Regions from separate parts of the Homo sapiens genome. Here regions 1 and 3 are each linked to region 2. Evidence: fine-mapped expression QTL. A gene starts in region 2. Each other region holds a variant in brackets. All regions are shown on one strand. Distances are between the middles of the regions.

Region 1 (7,609 bases), 92 kb after region 2:
GGAGGCAGAGGCAGGAGAATTGCTTGAACCTGGGAGATGGAGGTTGCAGTGAGCCAAGATCACACCATTGTACTCCATTCTGGGCAACAAGAGTGAAACTTCATCTCAAAAAACAAAACAAACAAACAAACAAAAAAGCTTAGTCTTGGTGGGGTGCAGCGGCTCACACCTATAATCCCAGCACTTTGGGAGGCTGAGGCAAGAGGATTGCTTGAGGCCAGGAGGTCACGACCAGCCTGGACAGCATAGCAAGACCCCATCTCTACCAAAGAAACGAAAGCTAGCTGTAGATTTGCCCCAAGGGAAGTGTATTGTGACGGTTAGATCTTTGAGTAACTCGAAAACATCAGACCTTGGGATCCATTCAGCCTGAGATTGAGTCTCATTTCTTCCTTTATCTAGTGATGAGAACTTGGACAAATAATCCCTCTAAGCCTCACTTTCCTCATTTAGACTGGATAATAATAGGATTGCTGGGGAGGTCCACTGATGAGAACACATTTTGCACAGTGTCTGCATATAGTGACGCCTCAGAAAATTATCATTGTTATCTCCTTTGCATGGGGAAATGTATTATTTTTATGTGGAAGAAAATGGGTATTTTTCCTTTGTATTGAGAGCTGATGGAACCAGATTTATGTCTTTTTAGACAGGGGCAAGTGTCCGAGTGGTGAATCAGCTACTTACAGAGATGGATGGTCTGGAAGCACGCCAGCAGGTTTTTATTATGGCAGCCACTAACAGGCCAGGTAAGAAATAAAAATATTGTAACACAGATGAATCTAAAAACTTACAGCATTTCCGTAGAAGAGATTCAGATAATTAAAAATAAAAGTAAAAACTAGTAGCATTTATAAACAATATAATTCACATGCATCCTAGGAAAGGAAGATTAAATTTGGGCAATCCATTTTTGGTTCTGTGAAAGGAAACTTCATAGTTGAAATAAAGGCTTAGAAAGCTTTTGCATAAGCTATAGTAAAAAGTATAGTATTACTGCTTGGATCCCATGAGATTGCTTTTCTGTGTCGGTGCTTAGAAAGCTCTTTTTGGCTGAGAACAGTTGCAGCATACACTTTTTTTTTTTTTTTTTTTTGAGACAGAATCTCGCTCTGTCACCCAGGCTGGCATGCAGTGGCATGACCTTGGCTCACTGCAACCTCTGCCTCCTGAGTTCAAGTGATTCTCCTGCCTCAGCCTCCTGAGTAGCTGGGATTACAGGTGCTGCCACCATGCCCGGCTATTTTTTGTATTTTTAGTAGAGATGGGGTTTCGCCATGTTGGCCAGGCTGGTCTTGAACTCCTGACCTCAGGTGATCTGCCCACCTCGGCCTCCCAAAGTGCTAGGATTACAGACGTGAGCCACTGCACCCGACCAGCATACACTTTTGACCACAAAAGTATTTTCAGAATTTGTGTTTTGTGGTTTCTCTCTAGCTTATAGGAAACAAAAACGAGACTCTTCACTCTAGTAGAAGTTAAAGATAGATTTTTAGGATTTTATGCTGGAGCCATGCCCCTATATCTGCCCTGAATAATTACTGAAAATTGTTTTCAAGGTTAAGCATTCTTTGAGGGATTCAGAAAAGGGCTCAAGACTACAGAAGTGCAGAAGATGGCTCGGAGTTACAACTCTAATCACATGCTTGATCTTTCTGGTGATCAGTCCCCTGCCCGAAGCTATCTGTGGGGCCACTATGCGTCACCACATTAGCTCAACAAAGATATTCCTGGCACTCAGGAAATTGCAAGGATTTTTGAAGATCTATGCCAGGAAAGGTGGGCAAAGACCAGTTATATTCTGTATTATACCATAGTAACCTTGGGACTATATTACTTTATCTTGCTGACCATCATTTTGGCACTTTTTAAATGAAGATGATAATACTTAATTGGCAGGATTGCCACAAAAGTTAAATGATGTTGGTAATGTATCTGCCACAGTGGTGTTAAACAGCACGTAGCTATTTAGTAATTGTTATCATGTTCATAAGCAGTTTGGTAATAGTAGTGGGAACAGTCATTAGGTCATAAAATCACAGAGTCATCCTAGAAGAAAGTCCCTCAGAGTTGAACAGAATCACATCGTCCCTTTCATAAGCAGATACAGATCTTTTCTCACATATTTCAAGAAGATGCTTGTCTTAGTCTGTTTTGTTTTGCTGTAACAGAATACCTGAAACTGGGTAATTTGTGTTAAAAAGAAAAGAGATTCAGTTCTTCTAGTTCAGGAAGCTGGGAAGGTCAAGGCTGAGTGGCCTGCATCTGTCAAGGGCCTTCTTGCTGCATCACCCCAAGGCGAAAGGGTAGAAGAGCACAAGAGCATGCATGAGAGAGCAAAAGGAAAGTGGCCTGGACAGGAAGAAACCATGGTCCCATGAGTAAAGGTGGACAAATAAAGTTTAATTAATTTTACCCTATCTTTGGACATTTATCTCAACTGCCTGAGCTAAACAACTGTTTTCTTCAGCCTACCAAAAAGCATTTTGTATAGCAAAAGATTAGTTTCACTGGAGGAAGTCTGGAGAAGAAAGAAGCAGAGAGAGGGGGGATCCTGGGGAGTAGGAAATGAGGGCCCTGTTTCTCTCAAAAAAGCCTCATTGAAGAAATACATTGATCCAGTTTTTTCCAGTATATGATCATCCTTTTTAAAGTGAGGAGCATAAATTAGTAAGGATGGGCTTAATATCTGTTAGTGGTGAGACAGAAAATGCTAAAATTATTATCTGTTTAATTGTTTGTACTATCTGGTTTTGATGTATGACTTGTCATATGTGCAGTATATTAATAACATCATACAGAAACATAGTTAACAAATGAGTAGACATTAAAAAAGAAAGAAAGTGGCCAAGCTGGGCATGGTGGCTTATGCCTGTAATCCTAGCACTTTACGAGGTTGAGACAGGAGGATCGCTTGAGCTTGGGAGTTTAAGACCAGCCTGGGCAACATAGTGAGACCTTGTCTCTATTATTTAAAAAATAGTGAGAGTGGCGAAACATATCCTTTTATCAAGAGTCCACTCCTGTAATAACTTACCCACTCTCTTGAAACCAGCATCATTCATGAGGGCAGAGCCCTCATGACCTAATCACCTTTTAAAGGTCCCACATCTCAACACTGTTTTATTGGGGATTAAGTTTCCAACACGTGAAATTTGGGGAATACGTTCAAACCACAGCATCAATCTTTCGTTTCCTGTAATAACCTATTCTATCGTTAACAGCCCGCACCATATTTTAAGTTTGTTTATTTTATTTTATTATTTATTTATTTATTTTGAGACAGAGTCTTGGTCTACTGCCCAGGCTGGAGTGCAGTGGTGTGATCTCAGCTCCTTGCAACCTCTGCCTCCTGGGTTCAAAGATTTCTTCTCCCTCAGCCTCCCAAGTAGCTGGGACTACAGGCACGTGCCACTACGCCTAGCTAATTTTTGTATTTTTAGTAGAGACAGGGTTTCACCATGCTGGCCAGCCTGGTCTCGGCTCCTGACCTCAGAGGATCTGCCTTCCTCGGCCTCCCAAAGTGCTGGGATTACAGGCATGAGCCACTGCGCCTGGCCTGTTTATTTTAAAACCTGTGTTAAGAATGGCAGAAATGGCAGATGAATCATAATGTGGTACCGGTGTTTTGTTTTTTCCCTATGTGTGTATATTGTCTTCCCCTAAAACTCTTCCATCCTTTTTTCCCCTGTAACAAATCTGTTGCATTAACGACCTACATTTAAAAATAAATGTTCTGGCCGGGCACGGTGGCTCACACCTGTAATCCCAACACTTTGGGAGGCCGAGGCCGGCGGATCACAAGGTTAGAAGATCGAGACCATCAGCTAACATGGTGAAACCCCGTCTCTACTAAAAATTAAAAAAGATTAGCCGGGCATGGTGGCACACACCTGTAGTCCCAGCTACTTGCGAGGCTGAGGCTGAGGCAGGAGAATCACTTGAACCCGGGAAGCGGAGGTTGCAGTGAGCCGAGATTGCACCACTGCACTCCAGCCTGAGTGACAAAGCGAGACTCTGTCTCAAAAAATAATAATAATAATAAACGTTCTAGATCTTCTTCACTTGTTTTCATGCTTATTTGGCAGTTCTGCTCCATTGTATACTATCACGTGACATTGTTTTGATTGCTTATAACTTCTCTGCTTAGCTTTAAGAATTCCCTTCTTGCTTGATGTTCTGGTTAGCCGTTGCTGCATAACAAACTACTGTAAAGCTTAGTGCTTTAAAATCACCATTTGTGGCTGGATGCAGTGACTCACACCTGTAATCCCAGCACTGTGGGAAGCCAAGGATCACTTGAGGTAAAGAGTTCAAGACCAGCCTGCTCAACATGGTGAAGCTCCATCTCTACTAATAATACAAAAATTAATTGGGCGTGGTGGTGGGCGCCTGCAATCCCGGCTACTCAGGAGGCTGAGGCAGGAAGGAGAATCACTTGAACCCAGGAGGCGGAGGTTGCAGTGAGCCCAGATAGCACCACTGCATTCCAGCCTGGGCGACAGAGTGAGACTCCATCTCACAAAAAAAAAAAAAAATCACCATTTTTATTTGGCTCACAATTTTTAGGTCAGGAATTTGGGATGGGCTTGTCTGGGTGGTTCATCTTGGATCCACGTACTATCAGCTGGAGTGGCTGGACCAGA[G/T]AATCCATTTCCACAGTGGCCTCTTTACTCACAATGTCTTCACAATCCTTGGTCTCTCTCCCAACCCGGCTGCCAAATAATTATAATCTTTTTGGAGTTTGTTTGTTTGTTTGTTTGTTTTTGAGACGGAATCTTGCTCTGTCGCCCAGACTGGAGCGCAGTGGCATGATCTCGGCTCACCGCAACTTCTGCCTCCCAGGTTCAAGTGATTCTCCTGCCTCAGCCTCCCGAGTAGCTGGGATTACAGGCATGTGCCACCACACCCGGCTAATTTTGTATTTTTAGTAGAGATGGGGTTTCACCTTGTAATCTTTCTGATGTTTTTACTTTATACATTGAAAAATGTTTAAGAAGCAGTCTATAAACTTTCTGTATTCCAAAGAAGTCCTTGACACAAAAGATACTCTGAGCCAGAAGATCTACAGTCCATGGAGAATTTGTGTGAGCTTAATGGGAGAAGTAAGAAGTGGTAAAATTTGAGACACATTTTGAAAGTAAAACTAATAGGATTTTCTGGAATTAGATGTGGGATAAGAGAAAGAAAATAAATAAGGGCTATTCTTATTGTTAGATTGTTTTACCTATACTGGGTAAAATGTTTTGCCACTTCTGAGATAGGGGACACTTGGAGAAAAAGGACACTTTAGAAAAAGACCAACTTTTCTAAAATGTCTGTTCAAGGAGATGAAAATAAGTTTATTTCATTTTCTTTACAAGTCCATATTATTTAAAACAATCACCAGTAATAACAACTAGGTTCTTGGAGCACCTACTAAGTGCCAGGCCCTCTGTTGGATGCTTTACCATTGTAAACCTCACAACAGCCCTACGAGAAAACTACATGTGTGCAAAAGTTGAACCTTGGTGAGTGATATGGTTTGGCTCTGTGTCCCCACCCAAATCTCATCTCCAGTTGTAATTTTGACATATAGAGGGAGGGACCCAGTTTCAAATCAAATGGCAGGAAAAGCTTATAACAAAAACTGTAGTTTTCTCTCCCATCCCTTCTAATCCCCTGCCCAGAGGCAACCACTTGAGCTATTTTTTTCCTTCATATTTTCAAATATGCTCTTATGGCTATTTCTTATCAATTTTAAACACTGCCCATTAACTTCATTTTAAGGTAGATGAAGATTTAGTTATCTTATGTTCACCCTTTCTCCATACCCTCCACTCCCACCATCACTGCCACATCATCTGTCCTCTTCCCCATTCTCCCAGTATTGTAATATAGTTTGATCAGAACTCTTGGTTAAGTCACTAGTGTTTACATTACTATGGCTGTGTCACTATTTCTCTCTGCTGACCCAAGCATGACACTGATTAGGTTTCCTTTCTCATATAACTCTTGTCCTTGGATTCAGTGGCCCTCATTTTTTTCTTTTGCTTTGTTTTCTGTTACTGTTCATCACATATTTTATACAGCTGTCGATGTTATTTATTCAAACGATGTACCAGTTCCATTTGTTTGTTTGTTTCTGGAGACCTCCCTCTGGAGCTTTCCACCTTCCTGGCTCTAATCTGGACTGGTTGCTTTAGGCCTGTGGTCTAAACAGCTGTTATTTCAGGACTTCCTTGACTGTTCTCCTTTGTTTGCCCTTTTTTTCTGATCTCATGGGTTTTTTGTGTGTACTTTTTTTATCTTGCTTACACCCTCATTTTGCTGGTACTTATCTTTCAGTGGCTTTTCTAAGAAAGATTATGTAGGAAGTAGATTTTTTTGACTGCTTGTATATTTGATTTGTTTTTCCAAATGTGAGACCATCCCCCATAGTTCTTTTATATTTAAAAATATCTTTATTCCACCCTAATTTTGATTAGTAACCTAGCTGGGATATAATTTTGAGTTTAAAATTATTTTTCTTCATAATTTATAGACATTGCTTTTTTTCTTTTAAAGGTTCCATGTCATTCTCATTCCTTCTATGTGACTTTTTGTTTGTTTGTTTAATTTGTGTGCTTAGCACTTGGATCTTAAACCCTCCTGGACTGATCTCCTAAATGTCCTCTTTTTTCTTATTTTTCATCTTCTTGCCTTTAATTTTTTTCCCAATTATTGAGGTATTAATGCTTAGAAAGTAAATGAAAATACTGTCCTCTCACCATTCCACCTTTGGTTATTCTGAAGAACTGGGACAGCCCTCTTCTTTTATTTAATTTATTTATTTGTATTTTTGAGACAGGGTCTCACTCTATAGCCTAGGCTAGAGTGCAGTAGTGCAATCACCACTCACTGCAGCCTCAACCTCCTAGGCTCAAGAGATCATCCCACCTCAGCCTCTCACGTAGCTGGGACTACAGGCACGCACCACTACACCCAGCTAATTAAAAAAAAAAAAAACTTTTTTGTAGAGATGACGTCTCACTATGTTGCCCAGGCTGGTCTCAAACTCCTGGGCTCAAGCGATCCTCCCACCTCAGCCTCACAATGTGCTGGGATTACAGGTGTGAACCACCGTGCATAGCCCTAGCCCTCTTCTAATGTGTGCTATATCAAAGTCCACATCTTCTTCTGGAAATAAGCGAACTTCCTTTTGCTTAACCAGAGGAAATGCAGTTCTTTGTACCCTAACCTTAGTCTCTCCTATGCACATCTTTGCATTCTCTTTTTCACATACCAACTCCAGTAAACGATGTTCTCAGTTAGGGAACTACCTGTTCCCCCTTAATCTATTATCTAGCTGTTTAAAAAAGATATTCCTGCACAATTATGAAACCCAAATATCTTATTACTTTCTCTTCTACTCAATAATTACGTATTTTCTACCAGTAGTATAATCCAGAAAGAGTTTCTGCCTTCTATGCATGGCTCAGTTGAAAAAATAAATAAGGGCCAAGTGTGGTGGCTCACACCTGTAATCCCAGCACTTTGGGAGGCTGAGGCAAGAGGATCTCTTAAGGCTAGGAGTTCAAGATTAGCCTGGGCAACAAAGCAAGACCCCATCTCTACAAAATAAAAATTA
Region 2 (10,896 bases):
AACCCTGTACTCTGACAACTATGAATCAAGTGTAAAGATAAGACATTTTCAAACATGGAAGGCCTCAAAATTTAATTGGCAGTTACCTTATCTCAAGAAGCTACATGAGGCTGGGCGCAGTGGCTCACAACTGTAATCCTAACACTTTGGGAGGCCAAAGAGGGCAGATCACTTGAGCCTAGGAATTTCAGACCAGCCTGGGCAACATAGTGAAACCCTGTCTCTACAAAAAAATTTTAAAAATCAGCCAGGTATGGTGGCACACACCTGTAGTCCCACCTACATGGGAGGCTGAGGTGGAAGGATCGCTTGAGCCTAGGAGGTCAAGGCTGCAGTGAGCCATGATCGCATCACTGCACTCCAGCCTGGGCAACAGAGTGAGACTCTGCCTCAAACAATCAAACAAAATTTATGAAAATTTTTAAAATATGGAGCTTAGGCCAGGCATGGTGGCTGACACCTGTAATCCCAGCACTTTGCCAAGACAGCAGGATTGCTTAAGGCCAGGAGTTCAAAGCCAGTCTAGATCACATAGCAAGACCCAGTCTACAAAAAAATTTAAAAATTAGCCAGGTGGCTGGGCACGGTGGCTCACACCTATAATCCTAACACTTTGGGAGGCTGAGGCAGGCGAATCACTTGAGGTCAGGAGTTTGAAACCAGCCTGGCCAACATGGTGAAACCCCATCTCTATGAAAAATACAAAAAAAATTAGCCAGGTGTGGTGGCAGTGCCTGTAATCCCAGCTACTTGGGAGGCTGAGGCAGGAGAAACGCTTGAACCTGGGAGGCAGAGGCTGCAGTGAGTCCAGATCACACCACTGCACTCCGGCCTGGGTGACAGAGTGAGACTCCATCTCAAAAAAAAAAAAAAAAAAATTAGCCAGGCATGGTGGCATGCGCCTGTAGTCCCAGCTACTCAGAAGGCCGAGGCAGATCACTTGAGCCTAGGAATTCAAGAATAGCCTGATCACCACTGCAAGAAACCTTCTCTCTCAATAAATAAATAAATAAATAAAGAGTCATACATTAAAAAAAAATTATTTTCTCGGTAAACTACACAAGAAAGGTCTTCTTTCATTCAACCAAAGACAGACTTGAGCTTTTTTCCGTGAGTGGGAGGAGGGAGTTCCAACGCAGAAGACAAAAACAATTACCCTCATGATGAACATTTCCCTACTCTGAGTAAAGATGCTATCCGCTGTAAACAAGAGACAAGCAACATATAAAGAAACAAAATTTCAAGTCAGATCTTCTAGCATAATTTCATGATCTAAAATATTGTAAAACACAGCAGTTCCATCAAATTTCCAATGAATAAGAGACAACATGTACTCTAAAATCAAAAATACATCTGTTATCTATAATAATCTTAAGTATGGAAAATGACCTGGCTTCAATGCCAGAGAATGAGCAAAGAAATGTCTTACCTTGTTTAATTTTGAGCAACATGATCTAGCATTAATGTAATCACATTCTAAATCAGACAATGTAATTATCTGATGATCAAGATAAGGAATTATTATATTTCTTTTATAATAACTAAGTATTTAAGTTTCAGAAAGCAATCCCAGTTACAAGGCAGAATTAGATTTGACTTGAAAAAAATGAGTTGTTTCCTAAAGTTTGCTCATTAGACAACTCAATTTTCCCATTCATGTTCCTTCAACAAATTATTTTACAAAATAATCCTATTTTGCTCAAATCTAATCTGACCCAACCAGAACATTTAGTTTGAGTTCTTCAAATGTAAAACAATGGCTATTAAAAAAAAAAAAATGGGAAATATCCCAGCACTTTGGGAAGCTGAGGCAGGAGGATCGCCTGAAGCAGGAGTTCAAGATCAGCATAGGCAACATAGCAAGCCTCCATCTCTTTCACCCAGGCTGTAGTGCAGTGGCGCAATTCCAACGCACTGCTACCCCTGCCTCCTGGGTTCAAGCAATTCTTGTGCCTCAGCCTTCCAAGTAGCTGGAACTATAGGTGCGCGCCACCACCACACCCAGCTAATTTTTTGTATTTTTAGTAGAGACGGGGTTTCACTATGTTAGCCAGGCTGGTCTCGAACTCCTGGCTTCAAGTGATTCACTCACCTCACCCCCATCTCTACAAATTTTTTCTTTTTTTTTCATTAGCCGGGCATGAGCACCTGTAATGCTAGCTATTAGTAGCAGTACTGCTAAGGTGAGGCAGCAAAATGCCTAGAGCCCAGGATTCACGTTACACTGAGCTATAATCACACCAGTGCGCTCCAGTCTGAGCAGCAGATTTGGTAGGCACTTGTAGTCTCAGTTACTTGAGAGGCTGAGGCAGGAGAATCGCTTGAACCCAGGAGATGGAGGCAGCAGTAAGCCAAGATTGCGCCACTGCACTCCAGCCTGGGTGACAGTGAGACTCTGTCTCAAAAATAAACATGAAAATAAAATAAAGTCAAACTCATCACTTTCTCCACAGATTGATCTTCCTCCAATTTGTTTTATTTCTGTTACTGACACAAGTATCACTTGCCCAGGATCAAAATATGGAAAGCTATCTCTGCCTTCTGTTTCATATATCATAATCACTCATTTGTAGGTCCTGGCAATCATTTCTTCTAAATACTACTCACATATTCCCTCCTTTCACCTGCCCACAACCAGCACTCTATTTGAAATCCAGACGACCCTATCCAGTTGGTTTATCTTCCAATCTTTCTTGTTTCCAACCCACTCGGCAGATTCATCTTCCTAATAAACTACCGAAAATAAAAATTTTCAATGGCTCTCTATTGCCTGCAGGATAAAAGTGAAAGACTTCCCTCCCACCCTTAACATTCAAGCCCTCCAAAATCTGATGTAATCCTGCCTTTCCAACTTAGCCTTCTACTGACGCCAAAATCAACCATGTGCTCCAGATGGTCTATTCGTTAACCATAGCCCAGAAATCCACGAACATACCTGTCTCTGCACCTTCGCTCTTGCCAGTGTCTGATTTGGAATATTCACCTCTTCCCCTTCCTGTAGATTTTGTCCACAGTTCAAAGTCCAAGAAAACTCTTATATCCTATATTAAGTCTACCGTGACCATTTTCCACCTCCTATCCCTAAGTTAGTGCAACTATTCTAAAATACAGAATATGCTGAATTTCATCAAAACACCCCCCGAATGTATTTTAATGTAATGTCTAAGTCAAACATTCCACCTACCATTTCTCTAAATGCATAAATTGGTGTAAACCAGGGCTATTTAAAATTATCAAGCCTGGTTTTCCAAACTGCAAAAAGAAAAAACCCAGCTACATTTCTGAGCATAAGCTCTAGTTCAGGGGTGTCCAATCTTTTGGCTTCCCTGGGCCACACTGGAAGAAGAATTGCCTTGGGCCACACATAAAATACACTAATACTAATGATAGCTGATGAACTTAAAAAAAAATCACCAAAAAAGAATCATAATGTTTTAAGAAAGTTTACAAATTTGTGTTGGGCCACATTCAAAGCTGTCCTGGACCACATGCAGCCCGTGGGCCGTGGGTTGGACAAGCTTGCTCTAGTTCCTTATATCACAAGAGGGGCATAGAGGTCATCAAAACTTAGGCAAGTGATGCTGCCCTTTCAATCAGCTCCCCAAACCTACTAAAACTCAGAAATCTTGTCGTTAGATATCATCAAAGTAAAAACTGCTGCTCAATTGGGGAGGGTGGGGACACGAAGGCAGAGCAATATTTACTGAACATTAGCTATGGGGCAGGCACTGTGCTAGGGTGCTCAGCACCATTCTCATTGTGCATATCTAGGAAATAAACATTTCCTATTTTAAAGATCAGAAAACTGAGGCTTAGGGAAATAATGTGCAAGCAAAGAGCTAGCTGACCAGGAAATCTGATTCCAAATTTTGTCCCTTTCCACTACAACAGGATGCCAGTCCACAATGAAAAATGAAGCTGCACTGAACATATACTCTGTACGACTATCCTAAAGCCCGCATGCTCTAGCAAACAAATGGTTTAATCCGATCAGAAACAGGTACATGTGATTTCCAAGAAAGGAAGCTGAAATGCGGAGTTCCTCATACGTTTTTTCTTATATTTAATTACTTAAACCTGGATGGTGCAATACAACATTGGGCAACAACTAAGCCTAGATGCTTTGTCAAGAGATGGGAAGAGTTGTAGCCGACATGGCTACTGCAGTGCTAAATTCAACCACCATTTATTGCTCTGGAAAACAGTTTGAATACTGCAACTTAAGTTTTAACATGGATCGATAGAAAAATTTAAAAGCTGAGAAACGATTGGGAACTACAGCAGATGTAGTTATTGAATTTACAGATCTGCAACCACCGGGGACAACCAAAATAATCACTTTGTAGACAGTTGTTAAAACAACTCCTTTCCAACACTCACTACAAAACGGCACAGTGAAGGAAGCAACTTCGCTCCTTTGGCGAATGAGTCAACTCCTGGATGTGAAAGGTCCCTGCAAGTACTAACACCCGCCAGAACAAAGGGGCGGGTGCCGGGGGTGTTGCGTGGGGAACAGGAGGAGGCAAATGGCCCGCACTTATCCCGGCACCCGACTGTCGCAAGCGACCGCCCTTGGGACCCCCAATATCCGACGAAGAGCACGGCGCAGGGCCTCTCCCAGAAAAACAGCGACGCTTCTCTCCCGAGGGCGGCCGTGGCTCAGGCAGGGCTGGTCCGGGCGCCGCGGGGACGAGCGGAGAGCAGGCGGGCAGGCCGAGACGGGGCGCGCCCGGAGAGGCCCACTCGGACCCGAGTGAGGGGCGGCCGGCAACCCAGGCAGGGCAAGTGCGTGCAGGGCAGCAGGGCCCGTCGGGTAGGGCAGCCAGCCTCTCCTACCCGCTCCGGGGCCCGCGCCACCGCCCCGGCCAGGCCAGCTCCCAGGGAGCCCACGCCCGCCGCCGGGCGCCTCCCTAGTCCCACACACCTGCCCGGGTGCCCAACTGGCCCACCCTCAGCCGTGTCCCCCGGCAAGGCGTTCGCCTGCCTCAGGCAAGGATACGAAGTAGACCGAGAGGAAGATGAGCGCGCAACAATCGAGGAGAGAGAAGACGAACACCACCGCCTCCATCCTCCTCCTCCGTCGCCGCCGCTCCTTCCGTCAAACCCGCTCGGATGCCCCGACCCACCCCTGATAGGCCCTTGCCGGGGCTGGCTGAGGCGTGTGGTCCTCGAATCCTGGTGTGGCATGCCGGGAGTTGTAGTCCATATTTTAAAAAACTCTACGGCCCTAATTCTGACGCATGCTGGGAATTGTAGTTCATTAGTACAAGTCCATATCAAAGAGGTGGGCAGGGCCTCTTTCATAAATCCGATTATTTCCAGAAATGGAATTAATCAACAAGTATTTACTCAACGCTTTTCTTTTAAAGAGCTGGGGTCTTGCTCTGTCGTCCAGGCTGGAGTGCAGTGGCGTGATAGAGCTCACTATGACCTCGAATTCCTGGGCTCAAGCAATCCTTCCACCTCAGCCTCCCGACATGCCCAGCTAATTTTATTTTATTATTTCTCATTTTATTTTATTTTTTGAGACAGGGTCTCACTCTGTCGCCCAGGCTGGAGTGCAGTGGCATGGTCACAGCTCACTGCAGCCTCTACCTCCTGGCCTCAGGTGATCCTCCCACCTCCGCCTCCTGAGTACCTGGGATTACAGGAATGTACCACCACGCCTGGCTAATTTTTTGTATTTTTAATAGAGATGGGGTTTTTGCCATGTTGCCCAGGCTGGTCTCGAATTCCTCGGCTCAAGCGATCTGCCTGCCTCAGTCTCCCACAGTGCTGGAATTACAGGCCTGAGCCACTGCACCAGTCTCTACTGAACGCTTTTAATCCGGATATCCAGTAGGATGTATTTCCCATGTGTGAAATTTTCTTTAGAGTTGGCTCTAGAACCATTGCATTCCCTGACTTAGGATTTGTAAGGGGTTTTCATCTCAAAGCACAAATCTAACTTAATGCTCCTGGCTTGACTTTTGCGATTTGCCCTTCCCTTCCTGATTTCAATTTCTCCAGAGATTTCACAGTCCTTTGTTTATCCTCTCCTACAGCAATGTTTCTCTCCTCTCTAGATTTTAAGATCTTTAAGAAGTGAATACGATGTCTTACTCATCCATTCATTCATTTAACAAATACAGTTGTATTTGCAGGGGCTACTTTCCAAGACCCCCAAGTGGATGCCTGACACGATGGATAGTACCAAACCTTATGTGTACTATGTTTTTTCCTATATATACATACCTATGATAAAGCTTAATTTATAGATCAGGCACAGTAGGAGATTAACAAGTAATAATAAGATAGAACAATTATACTGTAATAAAAGTTATGTAAATGTGGTCTTTCTGTCTCAAAATATCTTATTGTACTGACCCTTCTTTTTGAGATGATGTATGATGATAAAATGCCTATGTGATAAGATGAAGAGACAGATGCAGCCTCTCCAGTGATTTTTATATTTTTCAGTCCAAATCTATTCTTACATTCATGTAACTATCCATTACTTGCAGTAAGTGGCTTGGTATCACTCGTTTTAGGGAATCCCTCACTGAAGTCTTTGTATAGGCTCAATACTTTCTGGCTCAACACGTTGCCATCAATTGGCACATGTTTTCTGTTCATGTCTTCCACCCACAAATGTAATGCCTCTTCCATCTTTTTTGTGGTTGTTGTTTTAGTTTTTCTGAGATGAAGTTCACTCTGTCACCCAGGCTGGAGTGCAGTGGCGCCATTTCAGCTCTCTGCAACCTCCACCTCCCAAGTTCAAGCGATTCTCCTGCCTCAGCCTCCGGAGTAGCTGAGATTACAGGTGCATGCCACCACACCCAGATAATTTTTTGTATTTTTAGTAGAGTTGGGGTTTCGCCATGTTGGCCAGGCTGGTCTCAAACTCCTGGCCTCAAGTGATCCACCTACCTTGACCTCCCAAAGTGCTGGGATTACAGGCATGAGCCACTGTGCTGTGCCGCCTTTTCCATCTTAACTAAGCACTTATCAGGCACTGTGGCCATAACTTTTGTAGTCTGAGTTGCAACAGCAAAACTAGCACAAATTCCTTTTTCCTTTTTCAGAAATTCACAGATAAAAGACTGGTTCTTACCATAGATCTTAGCAGTCTCATAGGGTTTTTTTTTCTTTCCTTAAGTCAAGAACTTTGACCATTTCACTTAAAGGGAGCACTTCATGGCTTCTCTTTGGCATATCTGAATTGCCAGTATTCACTGCTCTTGAACTTTGGGCCATTGTTAAGTACAATAATGGGTACTTGAACATAAGCACTGCAATACTGCTGCAGTCAATCTGATAACTGATAAGATGGCTACTACGTGACTAACAGGTAGGTGGCATAGACAGCATGGATATGCTGGACAAGGGGATAGATAATTCATGTCCCAGGCAGGATGAAGTGAGCAGCAGGAGATTTCATTACACTCCTAAGAGTGGCACACAATTTAAAATTCATGGATTGTATATTTCTGAAATTTTCCATTTAACATTTTAGGACTGTGATTGACCTCAGGTAAATGAAACCAGTGAAAGCAAAACTGTGGATGAGACTGCTGTATTTACTGACAACACACCTGCTATAGGCCAAGAACTGCTCTAGACTCCAGAGATATAAAAATAAACAAGGCAAACAAGTTGCTGCTCTAGTAGGGTGAGTGGGAGGAACAGGCAATAAAGTATAACAAAGTATGGGAAAAAGATAACTTCAAGCAGTGATAAGCTCTGTGAGCGGTTGTGTCAAAGTTATTTATTCATTCAACCAATATTTTCTGAGCAGCCAGAATATATGAGCTACTGTTCCAAACCTTGGGAAAAGTCCCCACAAGCCTGTGGTTTACATTACAGTGAGAAAGACAGACGACAAAATAAATATACTAATGACAGGCAGTCATAAGTACTTGGAAGGGGATGGGGAAAGACGGAGTGATCAGAGAAAGCCAAGCTGAGGAAATGACACTTAAGTAGAAATTTGAACAATAGCTATGTGAAGGTCTGCGGGCAGAATGTTTCAGAAAGTAGGAACAATAATTTCAGAGGCCCAGTTGTATATAGAGGCTTGATGTGTTAAAGGAATAGAAAAAAAGACTACTGTGGTCTTGTGGCTAAAGCACAGGGGAAAAGGGTGAGAGAGTGCTGAGAGGAAGAGAAGGAGGCAGGGTAAGGTTATATGGGCCCTGTAGACCCTTGGCAAGGATTTTTATCCTAATATGATGAGAAACCACTGCAGAGTTCTAAGCAAAAAAGTAGCTTAATCTGATTTACATTTTTAAAATCTCATTCTGGCTATTTAGCGCACTGAATGTGTGAAAGGGAAACAAGTTTGTCAGCAGGGAGATCACATGGAGAGTAGAACAGGAGAATTACTATGAAGGCAAAACCAACTGAGCCGGGCGCGGTGATTCACGCCTGTAATCCTAGCACTTTGGGAGGCCGAGGCGGGCGGATCACCTGAGGTCGGGAGTTCGAGACCAGCCTGACCAACACGGAGAAACCCCGTCTCTACTAAAAATACAAAATTAGCCAGGGGTGGTGGTGCATGCCTGTAATCCCAGCTACTTGGGAGGCTGAGGCAGGAGAATCACTTGAACCCAGGAGGTGGAGGTTGCAGTGAGCTGAGATTGCTCCATTGCACTCCAGCCTGGGCAACAAAATGAAACTATGTCTCAAAAAAATAAGCAAACAACAACAACAAAAAACACAAAAACCCAACTGGATTTGCCTGATGCAGTACAGGTTCATAGATTCATAAAGGGTTCACAGGTTAAAGCTAGACATACAATTAACAGATTATCTAATTAATTAAACCAGCTATTACCAAACTCCCATTGTACCTTGTACATATCTCTATCAGAATATTCATTACATACTCAGTTATCTTAAGGTGAAAAAAAATACTCATCAACTATCTTCCTTATGTGCTTAGCCAGTCACACTGAGGGGTGACAGCGTGCTGGCAATCGTCACAGCCCTCACTCGCTCTCGCTCGCTCTCGGCGCCTCCTCTGCCTGGGCTCCCACTTTGGCGCCACTTGAGGAGTCCTTCAGCCCGCCGCTGCACTGTGGGAGCCCCCTTCTGGGCTGGCCAAGGCCGGAGCCGGCTCCCTCAGCTTGCGGGGAGGTGTGGAGGCAGAGGCGCGGGCGGGAACCGGGGCTGCGTGCTGTGCTTGTGGGCCAGCGCGAGTTCTGGGTGGGCGTAGGCTCGTCGGGCCCTGCACTGGGAGCTGCCAGCCGGCCCCGCGGGCCCCGCCGGCCCTGGGCAGTGAGAGGCTTAGCACCTGGGCCAGCAGCTGCTGTGCTCAATTTCTCACCGGGCCTTAGTTGCCTTCCCGCCGGGCAGGGCTCGGGACCTGCGGCCCGCCATGCCTGAGCCTCCCCGACCTCCGTGGGCTCCTGTACGGCCCGAGCCTCCCCGACGAGCGCCGCTCCCTGCTCCACGGCGCCCAGTCCCATCCACCACCCAAGGGCTGAGGAATGCCGGCGCACGGCACGGGACTGGCAGGCAGCTCCACCTGCAGCCCCCGTGGTGAATCCACTGGGTGAAGCCAGCTGGGCTCCTGAGTCTGGTGGGGACGTGGAGAACCTTTATGTCTAGCTAAGGGATTGTAAATACACCAATTGGCACTCTGTATCTAGCTCAAGGTTTGTAAACACACCAATCAGCACCCTGTGTCTAGCTCAGGGTTTGTGAATGCACCAATCGACAATCTGTATGTAGCTACTCTGGTCGGGACTTGGAGAACCTTTATGTCTAGCTCAGGGATTGTAAATACACCAATCGGCACTCTGTATCTAGCTCAAGGTTTGTAAACACACCAATCAGCACCCTGTGTCTAGCTCAGAGTTTGTGAATGCACCAGTCCACCCTCTGTATCTAGCTACTCTGGTGCGGATGTGGAGAACGTTTGTGTCTAGCTCAGGGATTGTAAAGGCACCAATCAGCACCCTGTCAAAACAGACCACTGGGCTCTACCAATCAGCAGGATGTGGGTGGGGCCAGATAAGAGAATAAAAGCAGGCTGCCCCAGCGAGCAGTGGCAACCCACTCGGGTCCACTTCCACAGTGTGGAAGGTTTGTTCTTTTGCTCTTTGCAATAAATCCTGCTGTTTGTCACTCTTTGGGTCCACGCTGCCTTTATGAGCTGTGACAGCGCGAAGGTCTGTAGCTTCACTCCTGAGCCAGTGAGACCACGAACCCACCGGAAGGAGGAAACTCCGAACACATCTGAACATCAGAAGGAACAAATTCCAAATGTGCCACCTTAAGAGCTGTAACACCACGAGGGTCCGTGGCTTCATTCTTAAAGTCAGTGAGACCAAAAACCCACCAATTCTGGACAGAACACGTTTGATCAAGCTTGTTCAGCCCATTGCCCATACGCCACATGTGGTCCAGAACGGCATTGAATGCAATCTACCATAAATTTATAAACTTTATTAAAACGTTATGAAATTGTTTTTGCCATTTTTTTTATTTCATCTCATCAGCTATCATTAGTGTTAGTGTGTTTTATATGTGGCCCAGGACAATTCTTCCAGTGTGGCCCAAAGAAGCCAAAAGATTAGACACCCCTGCTTTAGATTATGATAAAAGTAACAGATTTTATTAATTTTTATATCCCAATACTTTCTATTCTATAAATAGCTGGTGGTTAATAAATGGTTCCTGAATGAATGATCCACACTATCATGACAGATTTTATTTATATTAGTCCAGATTTTATCAAAATCATAAACCTCATCTCACATGTATTCCCCGAGATGGAGTAGGAAATACAAGCTATTTCGCATTTTTTTTTTTTTTTTTTTTGAGGCAAGAGTCCCACTCTGTCGCCCAGGCTAGAGTGCAGTAATGCCATCTCAGCTCGCTGCAACCTCCGCCTCCCCAGTTCAAGTGGCT
Region 3 (10,896 bases), 110 kb before region 2:
TGAAGTTTTTCTTCTTTTTTGATGTAGGCACTGATACCCATAAACTTCCCTTTTTTGATGTATGTCATAGTTTTTGGTATGTTGTGTTTCCACTATCATTTGTTTCAAGAAAACTTTTTCTTGAAAAACTTTTTTTTTTTTTTTTTGAGGCGAAGTTTTGCTCTTGCTGCCCAGGCTGTAATGCAATGGCACAATCTCGGCTCACCGCAACCTCTGCCTCCTGGGTGCAAGTGATTCTTCTGCCTCAGCCTCCCAAGTAGCTGGGACTACAGGCATGCACCACCATGCCCAGCTAATTTTGTATTTTTAGTAGAGACGGGGTTTCTCCACGTTGGTCAGGCTGGTCTTGAACTCCTGACCTCACATGATCTGCCCACCTTGGCCTCCCAAAGTTCTGGGATTACAGGCATGAGCCACTGTGCCTGGCCAAAACTTTCGTTTTTTTATCTCTTCATTGACCCACTGGTCATTCAGGAACATACTGTGTAATTTCCTTGTGTTTGTATAATTTCCAGAATTCCTCCTGTTATTGGTTTTTAGTTTTATTTTATTGTGGTCAGAGAAGATATTTGATATTATTTCCATTTTTTGAATGTTTTAAGACTTGTTTTGTACCCTAACATAGGGTCTTTCCTTGTGAATGATCCATGTGCTAAGGAAAAGAATGTGTGTTCTGCAGCCATTGGATGAAACGTTCTGTAAATATCTATTAGGTCCATTTGGTCTATAGTGCAGATTAAATCCAATGTTTCTTTGTTGATTTTCTGTCTAGGAGATGTGCCCAATGCTGGAAGTGGGGTGTTGAAGTTTCCAGCTATTGTTGTCTCTCTCTCTCTCTCTTTAGCTCTAGTAATATTTCCTTTACATACCTGTGTGCTCTCATGTTGGATGCATATATATTGATAATTGTTATATCCTCTTGCTGAACTGACCTCTTTATCATTATATAATGACCTTTTTGTCGCTTTTTATAGTTTTTGTATTGAAACCTATTTTGTGTGATATAAGTATAGCTACTCTTGCTCTTTTTAGGTTCCCATTTGCATAGAAGTGGTGAAGTGTATTTCTTTTAGGCATCAGATCACTGGGTCTTGTTTTGTTTTGTTTTGTTTTTAATCCATTCAGCCACTCTATGCCTTTTGATTGTTGAGTGTAGTCGATTACCAATTACTTATTTTATTGATAAGTAAGGACTTATTCCTGTCATTTTGTTGTTTCCTGGTTGTTTTATGGTCTTCTCTTATTTCCTTCCTTCCTGTCTTCCTTTTAGTGAAGGTGATGATTTTCTTGTGGTATGTTTTAATTTTTTGCTTTTTAATTTTTGTGTATCCATTGTACGTTTTTAAATTTGAGGTTACCATGAGGCTTGCAAATAATATCTTCCAAACCCATTATTTTATTTATTTTTTTAAATACAAACTAAGGCTTTTTCTTCAATTATCTCTATCATCCACAGTAAAAGGAAATAAGTCACCTGCAACTGATGCCAAACCCTCCTGCCAATGAGAGATAAGCAGCTCTGGGTAATTTCACATAGCCCAGCAAAGACAGTTTCCTTGAATTCTTATGAAAAATTGGCCCTAAAATCTATCAGGATGACTTATTCATGAGAATCATCTGAGATACCCATTATAAATATAGTTGTCCAGAATCTTAGGTGGTTGTGGGAGAGGAAAGCTCCTGTAATTCTGAATTTTGTGGTTTTTGATTTTTAATTTTTTTATTTCAATAGGATTTTTGGGGAACAGGTGGTGTCTGGTTACATGAATAAGTTCTTTAGTGGTGATTTCTGAGATTGTGGTGCACTCATCACCCTAGCAGTGTACACTGTGCCCAGCGTGTAGTCTTTTATCCCTCACCATCCTCAATCCTTTTCCCCAGGTCCCCAAAGTCCAATGTATCATTCTTATGCCTTTGCGTCCTGATAGCTTAGCTCCCACATATTAGTAAGAATATATAATGTTTGGTTTTCCATTCCTGAGTTACTTCACTTAGAATAATAATTTCCAATTCCATCCAGGTTGCTGCGAATGTCATTATTTCTCTCCTTTTTATGGCTGAGTAGTATTCCATGATGTATACATATATACCATGTTTTCTTTATCCACTTATAGATTAATGGACATTTGGGCAGGTTCCATATTTTTGAAATTGTGAATTGTGCTGCTATAAACATGCATGTGCAAGTATCTTTTTTATATAATGACTTCTATTATCATATAGAAAATGTGATATCACTTCATTTTAAATGGTTTTTATGCAAAAGACAGGCAATAACAAATGCTGGTGAGGATGTAGAGAAAAGGGAATCCTTATACACTGCTGGTGGGAATGTAAATTAGTACAACCACTATGAAGAACAATTTGGAGGTTCCTCAAAAAAACAAAAATAGAGCTATCATATGATCCAGACATCCCATTGCTAGGGAAATACCCACCCTCCCAAAAAAAGGAAATCAGTATATCGAAGAGATATCTGCACTTCCATGTTTACTGCAGCACTATTGACAATAGCCAAGATTTGGAAGCAACCTAAGTGTCTATGAACAAATGAATGGATAAAGAAAATGTGGTACATATACACAATGGAGTACTATTCAGCTATAAAAAAAAGAATGAGAGGCCGGGCACGGTGGCTCACACCTGTAATCCCAGCACTTTGGGAGGCCGAGGCCGGTGGATCATGAGGTCAGGAGTTCAAGACCAGCCTGGCCAAGATGGTGAAAGCCCGTCTCTACTAAAAATACAAAAAAATTAGCCAGGCATGGTGGCAGGTACCCGTAGTCCCAGCTACTTAGGAGGCTGCAGCAGAGAACTGCTTGAACCCAGGAGGCGTAGGTTGCGGTGAGCCGAGATCACGCCACTGCACTCCAGCCTGGGTGACAGAGCGAGACTCCATCTCAAAAAAAAAAAAAAAGAGAGAATGAGATTCTGTCATTTGCAACAACATGAACAGAACTGGAGGTAGTTATGTTAAGGAAATAAGCTAGGCACTGAAAGACAAACTTTGCGTATTCTTACTTATTTGTAGGAGCTAAAGATTAAAACAACTGAACTCATGGAGATAGAGCGTACAATGATGGTTACCAGAAGCTGGGAAGGGTAGTGGGGGAGTGGGGAGGAAGAGGGGATGGTTAATGGGTACAAAAAAATAGAATGAATGAATAAGAGCTAGTATTTCTGCCAGGCACTGTGGTTCACGCCTGGAATCCCAGCACCTTGGGAGGCCAAGGCGGGCAGATCACATGAGGTCAGGAGTTCTGGTCTCGAACTCCTGACCCTGTCTCTACTAAAAATATAAAACATGAGCTGGATGTGGTGGCGTATGCCTATAGTCCCAGCTACCCGGGAGGCTGAGGCAGGAGAATCACTTGAACCCAGCTTGCAGTGAGCTGAGATTGTGCCACTGCACTCCAGCCTGGGCAACAGAACAAGACCTCATCTAAAACAAACAAACAAACAAACAAAAAACCTAGTATTTGCTAGCACAACGAGGTGACTATAGTAAAAAATAATTTAATTGTACACTTTTAAATAATTAAAAGAGTACAACTAGATTGTTTGTAACACAAACGATAAATTCTTGAGGTTATGGATATCTCATTTATCCTGATGTGATTATTACATATTGTATGTCTGTATCAAAATAGCTCGTGTACACCATAAATATACATACCTACTATGTACCCCCAAAAAAGAAACAATGCAAGCAAGAAGACAATGGAACAACATCTTTAAAGAACTGAAAGAGATGGCCAGGCATGGTGGCTTGTGCCTGTAAACCCAGCGCTTTGGGAGACCGAAGTGGGAGGATCACTTGAGCCCAAGAGTTCAAAACATAGGCAGATCCCATTTTTACAAATAAACAAAAAACAATAACAACTGAAAGAGGGCTGGGTGTGGTGGCTCACACCTGTAATCCCAACACTTTGAAAGGCCGAGGCAGAAGGGTCACTTGAGGCCAGGAGCTGAAGACCAGCCTGGGCCAGACAAGGAGACCCTTGTCTCTACAAAAAAAGTTTTACAAAATTAGCTGGGCCTGGTGGCACACACCTGTAGCCCTAGGTACTTGAGAGGATGAGGCAGGAGAACCACTTGAGTCCAAGAAGGCTGCAGTGAGCTACGATCGTGCCACTGCACTCCATCCTGGGTGACAGAGTGAGACACTACCTCTTAAAAAAAAAAAAAAAAAAGGCCAGGCACAGTGGCTCATGCCTGTAATCCCAACACTTCGGGAGGCCGAGGCAGGTAGCTCACAAGGTCAGGAGATCGAGACTATCCTGGCTAACACAGTGAAACCCCGTCTCTACTAAAAATACAAAAAATTAGCCGGGCATGGTGGCGGGTGCCTGTAATCCCAGCTACTCAGGAGGCTGAGGCAGGAAAATGGCATGAACCCGGGAAGCAGAGCTTGCAGTGAGCCGAGATCGCGCCACTGAACTCCAGCCTGGGCAACAAAGCGAGACTCTGTCTCCAAAAAAAAAAAAGAAGAAGAAGAATAACTGAAAGAAAGAACTGCCAAGTTTAAATTATACACCCAGTTTTTTAAAAACCATATTTCAAAAATGAAAATAAAGATGTTTTCAGATTTTTTTTAAATCTGGCAGAATTCATCACTACCAGACTTTAAAAAATATTAAAGGAAGGCCTGAAAGTAGAAGGAAAATGATACCACATGGAAATATTGATCTAACCAAAGGAATGAAGAGTGTCAGAAATGGTTACCACACAGGTAAAATATGTAAGATGTTTTTCCTATTATTTATGTCTCTTTAAGAGATAATTGAGTCCTCAACAAAATATTAATAAATTAAATTCAGCAATATCAAAAAAGAATTAGCCAGGAATGATGGCACATGCCTGTGGTCCCAGCTACTTGGGAGGCTGAGGCGGAGGGATTGCTTGAGCCTGAAGTTTGAGATTACAATTAGCTATGATTTGCACCACTGCGCTCCAGTCTGGGTGACAGAGCAAGACTCTGTCGCTATAAAACAAATAAATAATAAAAAATTCTTTAAAATTATACATCATAACCAAGTTGGACTTATTACAGGTATGCAAGGCCAGTTCAATATTTGAAAATCAGTCAATATAACCCATCATATCAACAGGCTAAAGAA[G/T]AAAAATCAGGCTGGGCAGAGTGGCTCACACCTGTAATCCCAGCAGTTTGGGAGGCCAAGGTGGAAGGATCATTTGAGTCCAGGAGTTCAAGACCAGCCTGGGAAATATAGCAAAATCCTGTCTCTACAAAAAAAATTAAAAATTAGCTGGGCATGGTGGCATGCACCTGAAGCTCCAGCTTCTCAAGAGGCTGAGGTGGGAGGATCACTTGACGCCAGAAAGTAAAGGCTGCAGTGAGCCATGATTGCACCACTAAACTCCAGCCTGAGTGACAGAACAAGACCCTGTCTAAAAAATAAAATAAAATAAAAAAGAAGAAAAGTCATATGACCATATTGATATAGAAAAAGCATTTTACAAAATCCAGTTCCCATTCACGTGCACAAAAAAAAAAAAGTTTCACAAACTAGGATTAGAGAGGAACTGACTCAACTTGATAGAGAGCATCTACCAAAAAACTACAGGTAACAGCATAATTAGTGGTGAAAGACTGAAAGACTGAATGCTTTCCCCCTAATATCAGGAACATGGCATCACCATTCTTTCTTTTTTTTTTTTTTTTTTTGAGACAGGGTCTCACTCTGTCACGCAGGCTGGAGTGCAGTGGCAGTGGCATGATCATAGTTCACTGCAGCCTTTAACTCCTGGCCTCAAGTGATGCTCCCACCTTCTCCTACCACAGACGTACTCTCATCATTCTTATTCAACACAGTACTGAAAGTTCTAGCCTATGCAATAAAGAAAGAAAAACAATAAATGCAGACAGATTGGAAAGAAAGAAATAAAATTGTCCCTATTTGTAGATGACAATTATCTACACAGAAAATCCTAATAAATCTATTTTTAACTGCAATTTTAAAAATTAATAAGGAAGGTCACTGGACACAGAATCAACACACAAAAATCAACAAACATGTAGAAACCAAAGCTGAAAACACAATACCATTTACAATTGCTACAAAGCAAATGAAATACTTAGTTATAAATCTAACAAAACATGTATAAGAGCTGTATGCTGAAAATTACAAAATGTTGATGAAAGAAATCACAGAAGACCTAAATAAATAGAAATACTGTGTTTATGACTTAGAAAACTCAACACTAAAAACATCAATTTTTCCCAAATTGATTTACATAATTCCTATCCAAATTCCAGCAAGGCTTCTTATAGATATAAATAACTTATTCTAAAATTTATATGGAAAGGTAAAGGACCTAAAATAGTTACGACAATTTTGAAAAAGAAGAATGTTGTAAGAAGAATCATTCTACCCAATGTTAAGGCTTACTAAATAACTTCAGTAATCAAGACAGTAGAGTACTGGTGGAAGAATAAATATGTAGATCAATGAAATATAATAGAGGAAACAATAGAATCACAAAAGAATGTACAACTGATTTTTTTAAAGAAAAAAGGTACAAACATGATTTAATAGAGGAAGGACGGCCCTTTCAACAATTGGTGAAGAAAAAAAAAAAGTCTGTAGGCCAAGAAAAAAAAAGAAGAGCCTCATACCTTTTACAAAAATTAACTTAAAATGAATCATTGATTTAAACATACCATGTAAAACTATGAAACTTTTGGAAAAAAAAAAAACAGGAGGAAATCTTCAAAACCTACGGCTGGGAGAACAGTACTTCAACTTGATATCAAAACTATGATCCCAGCCAGGCGCAGTGGCTCATGCCTGTAATCCCAGCAATATGGGAGGTCGAAGTGAGTGGATCACCTGAGGTCAGGAGTTCGAGACCAGCCTGGCCAATATGGTGAAACCCCGTCTCTACTAAAAATACAAAAATTAGCCGGGCTTGGTGGCACCTGCCTGTAATCCCAGCAACTCAGGAGGCTGAGGCAGGAGAATTGCTTGAACCCAGGAGGCAGAGGTTGCAGTGAGCTGAGATCGCACTATTGCACTCCAGCCTAGGCAATGAGAGCAAAACAAAAACAAACAAACAAACAAACAAAAACTATGATCCAGGAAAACTTGATAAATTGGACCTCTTAAGAATTAGAAAATTTTGCTCTGTGAAAGCTCCTGTTAAGAGAATGAAAAGAGCCAGGCATAGTGGCTCACGCCTGTATTCACAGCACTTTGGGAGGCAGAGGTGGGCAGATGGCTTGAGTCTAGCAGTTCAAGATCAGCCTCAGCAACATTTCCAGCAGTTCAAGAAATGTCTCTACAAAAAACAGAAAAAATTAGCTGGGTATGGTGGCACACACCTGTAGTCCCAGCCACGTGAGAGGCTGGGGTGGGATGATCACTTGAGCCCAGGAGGTCAAGGCTGCAATGAGCCATGATCACACCACTGCACTCCAGCATGGGTAACAGAGTGAAACCCTGTCTCAAGAGAATGAAAAGATAAATTACAGACTGGGAGAAAATATTTGCAAGCCAAATATCCAACAAAGGATTTAGTATCTAGAATATAAAGAATTTCCAAAACTCAACAGTAGAAAAGCAAACAATATAATTAGCAAGTGTACTAAAAACATTTCACTGAGGAGTAGATACAGGTAACAAGCTAATAAAAAGATGTTCAACCTCAGTGATTAGGGCAATCTAAATTAAAACCACAATGCATTATCACTACATGCCTAACAGAGTGATAAAATAAAAAATGTCAAATTCTGGCAAGGATATGGGAAAAACTGGATCACTCTTACATGGCTGGCAGGAATGTAGAATGGGATAGCTACTCTGGAAAATATTTTGGCATTTTCTTTTAAAACTAAAAGTGCACTTACCATACAACCCAGCAATTGCACCCTTGGGCATTTATCCCAGGCAAATGAAAACCTATATGCGCTCTGCAATCTATACATGAATGTTGATAACAACTCTATTTATAATAGCCAAGAACTAGATACCACCCAAATGTCCTTCAATGTATAAATGGTTGAAGAAACTGTAGTACATCCATACCACAGATACTACTCTGCAACATAAAGGAAAAAACTACGATAGAATTAGGCCTTGGCTGGTTCTCAAGGGAATTATGCTGATTGATTTTTTTAAAAAGCTACAGACTGTATGACACTACATAAGTGATTCCATTTACGTAATGTATTTGAATAACAATATTAAAAGATGGAGAACAGAAGAATGGCTGCTGGGGTTATGGACTGGGGAGAAAGAAGGTAGATGTGACTATAAAAGCATCAGGGAGGCTTATGGTGATGAAATGGGTCTGTATCTTGATTGTGGTGGCAATTACACAAAGCTACATGTATGATAAAACTGCATAGAACTACATACACACACAAATGAGTGCATGTGTAACTGGTAAAATCTGACTAAACCCTGTGGATTGTACTAATGCCAATTTCTGGGTTTTTGTTTTTCGTTTTTTGTGTTTTTTTGAGAAGGAGTTTCATTCTCATCACCCAGGCTGGAGTGCAATGGCGAGATCTCAGCTCACTGCAACCTCCGCCTCCCAGGCTCAAGCGATTCTCCTGCCTCAGCCTCCCGAGTAGCTGAGATTACAGGTGCCCGACACCATGCCCGGCTCATTTTTGTATTTTTAGTGGAGATGGGGTTTCACTATGTTGGCCAGGCTGGTCTCAAACTCCTGACATCAGGTGATCTGCCTGCCTCAGCCTCCCAAAGTGCTGTGGTTACAGGCGTGAGCCACAGCACCCGCCCAATTTCCTGGTTTTGATACGGTATGTAGTTATGCAAAATGTCAACATTGAGGGAGGAGGGGTGAAGGATGCACAGGACCTTTCTATACATTTATTTGCAATATCCCGTTTATAATTATTTCAAAATAAAACATCTAAAAAAGAAAACTGGCTGTTCAAGCAAAAATAATAGTATAGACTGTGGTTTATAACAAATGTGTAAGTAAAACGTATGACAACAACAGCATAAAAGCTATGAGGAGGGAAACAAAGGTAGACTCCTGTAAACTTATGTTATGTGTGAAGTGATACAATATAACTTGAAGGTAGACTGTGATGAGTTAAAGATAATTCTAACCAGCCAGGCATGGTGGGTCACACCGGTAATCCTAGCACTTTGGGAGGCCAAGGTGGGCAGATGACCTGAGGTCGGGAGTTCGAGACCAGCCTGACCAACACGGAGAAACCCCGTCTCTACTAAAAATACAAAATCAGTCAGGTGTGGTGGTGCATGCCTGTAATCCCAGCTACCTGGGAGGCTGAGGCAGGAGAATCGCTTGAATCCAGGAGGTGGAGGTTGCGGTGAGCCAAGATTGTGCCATTGCACTCCAGCCTGGGCAACAAGAGCGAAACTCCGTCTCAAAAAAAAAAAAAAAGATAATTCTAACTATCTTGGCTGGGTGCCTCAGCTTACATCTCTAATCTCAGCACTTTAGGTGGCTAAAGTGGGAGGGTCGCTCAAGTCCAGAAGTTTCAGACCAGCCTGGGCAACATGGTGAGACTGTTTCTACAAAAAATCAAAAAATTAACTGGGCCTAGTGGTACACACCTGTGGGCCCAGCTACACGGGAGGCTGAGGTGAGAATATCACTTGAGCCCAAGAATTAATGACTGCAGTGAGCTGTGATCACACCACTGCACTTCAGCCTGGGCAATAGAGCAAGACCCTGTCTTTAAATAAAATAAAATGAAATAAAATCTTTAAAAAAAAGAAGAATACAGCTGGAAGACTTATGCTACCTGACTTCAAGATTTATTTAAAAGCTACAGGAATCAAAACAGTGTGGTTTGGTATAAATAAGGAAAATAGATAAATGGAACAGAATATGGAAATCAGAAATAGATCCATACATAAATGGAGAACTAATTTTTTACAAAGGTGCCAAGGCAATCCAATGGAGAAAGGATAGTTTTTTCAAGAAATAGTTCTGGAACAATTGGATATCCACATGCAAAAAAGAAAGAAATGAACTTTGATCCATAACTCACACCATACATAAAAATTAGCTTAAAGCCAGGCACGGAAAAGTATTACCTATTCAAAAATTAAACTAACTAGCTGGGTGCAGTAGCACATGCCTGTAGTCCCAGCTACCTGGGAGGCTGAGGCAGGAGGATCCCTTGAGCCTAGGAATTTAAGAACAGCCTGGGCAACATATAGAGACCCCATCTCAAAAAAAAAATCAATTCAAAATAGAGCATTGACCTAAATGAATAACCTAAAACTATAAAACTTCTAGAAGAAAACACTGGAGAAAAATTTTGTGGCCTTGGGGCAAAGATTGCTTAGACATGACACCAAGAGCATAACCCATAAAAAATAAATATAAAGTGAACTCCATCAAAATTTAAAGGTTAAGCTCTTCAAAAGATACTCCGAAAAGAATGAAGACAATCCAGGTCGAGCGCGGTGGCTCACACCTGTAATCCCAGCACTTTGGGAGGCTGAGGTGGGCGGATCACAAGATCGGGAGTTCGAGACAAGCCTGGCCAATATGGTGAAACCCCGTCTCTACTAAAAACACAAAAATTAGCCAGGTGTGGTGGCATGTGCCTGTAGTCCCAGCTACTCGGGAGGCTGAGGCAGGAGAATGGCTTGAACCCAGGAGGCAGAGGTTGCAGTAAACTGAGATCATGCCACTGCACTCCAGCCTGGGCGACAGAGCGAGACTCCCTCTAAAAAAAAAAAAAAAAAAAAAAAAAAAAAAAAAAAATGAGGACAATTCATAAGCTGGGAGAAAAATCATCACAAAGCACATATCTGATAAAAGACTTGTATCAGGCCGGGCACGGTGGCTCACACCAATAATCCCAGCACTTTGGGAGGCTGAGGCAGGCGGATCATCTGAGGTTGGGAGTTCGAGACCAGCCTA

The links. PIP is the estimated chance that this variant, and not a neighbour inherited with it, causes the effect. A credible set is the group of variants that fine-mapping cannot tell apart.
Region 1: its variant is the best candidate, but not a certain one, in a credible set for the expression of CNIH4 in whole blood (TOPMed, PIP 0.54).
Region 3: its variant is the best candidate, but not a certain one, in a credible set for the expression of CNIH4 in pancreas (GTEx, PIP 0.61).

The regions. Positions count from the first base shown.
Region 1 is chr1:224,261,174-224,268,782 of GRCh38, reverse strand. NVL (nuclear VCP like) reads left to right here. Exons shown (of 23, transcript NM_002533.4): 18 at 650-749. Among named protein-coding and RNA genes, the nearest start is that of MIR320B2, 7.9 kb to the right of the region's middle. The variant G/T (reference allele first, on the strand shown) is at 4,647.
Region 2 is chr1:224,351,097-224,361,992 of GRCh38, reverse strand. CNIH4 (cornichon family member 4) reads right to left here and starts at 5,114. Exons shown (of 5, transcript NM_014184.4): 1 at 5,000-5,114; 2 at 1,430-1,498. The coding sequence starts at 5,068. RefSeq lists enhancers at 4,264-4,764, 5,322-5,461 and a silencer at 4,672-5,041.
Region 3 is chr1:224,463,615-224,474,510 of GRCh38, reverse strand. It overlaps a transcript of CNIH3 not described here. Among named protein-coding and RNA genes, the nearest start is that of WDR26, 34 kb to the right of the region's middle. RefSeq lists a silencer at 352-521. The variant G/T (reference allele first, on the strand shown) is at 5,121.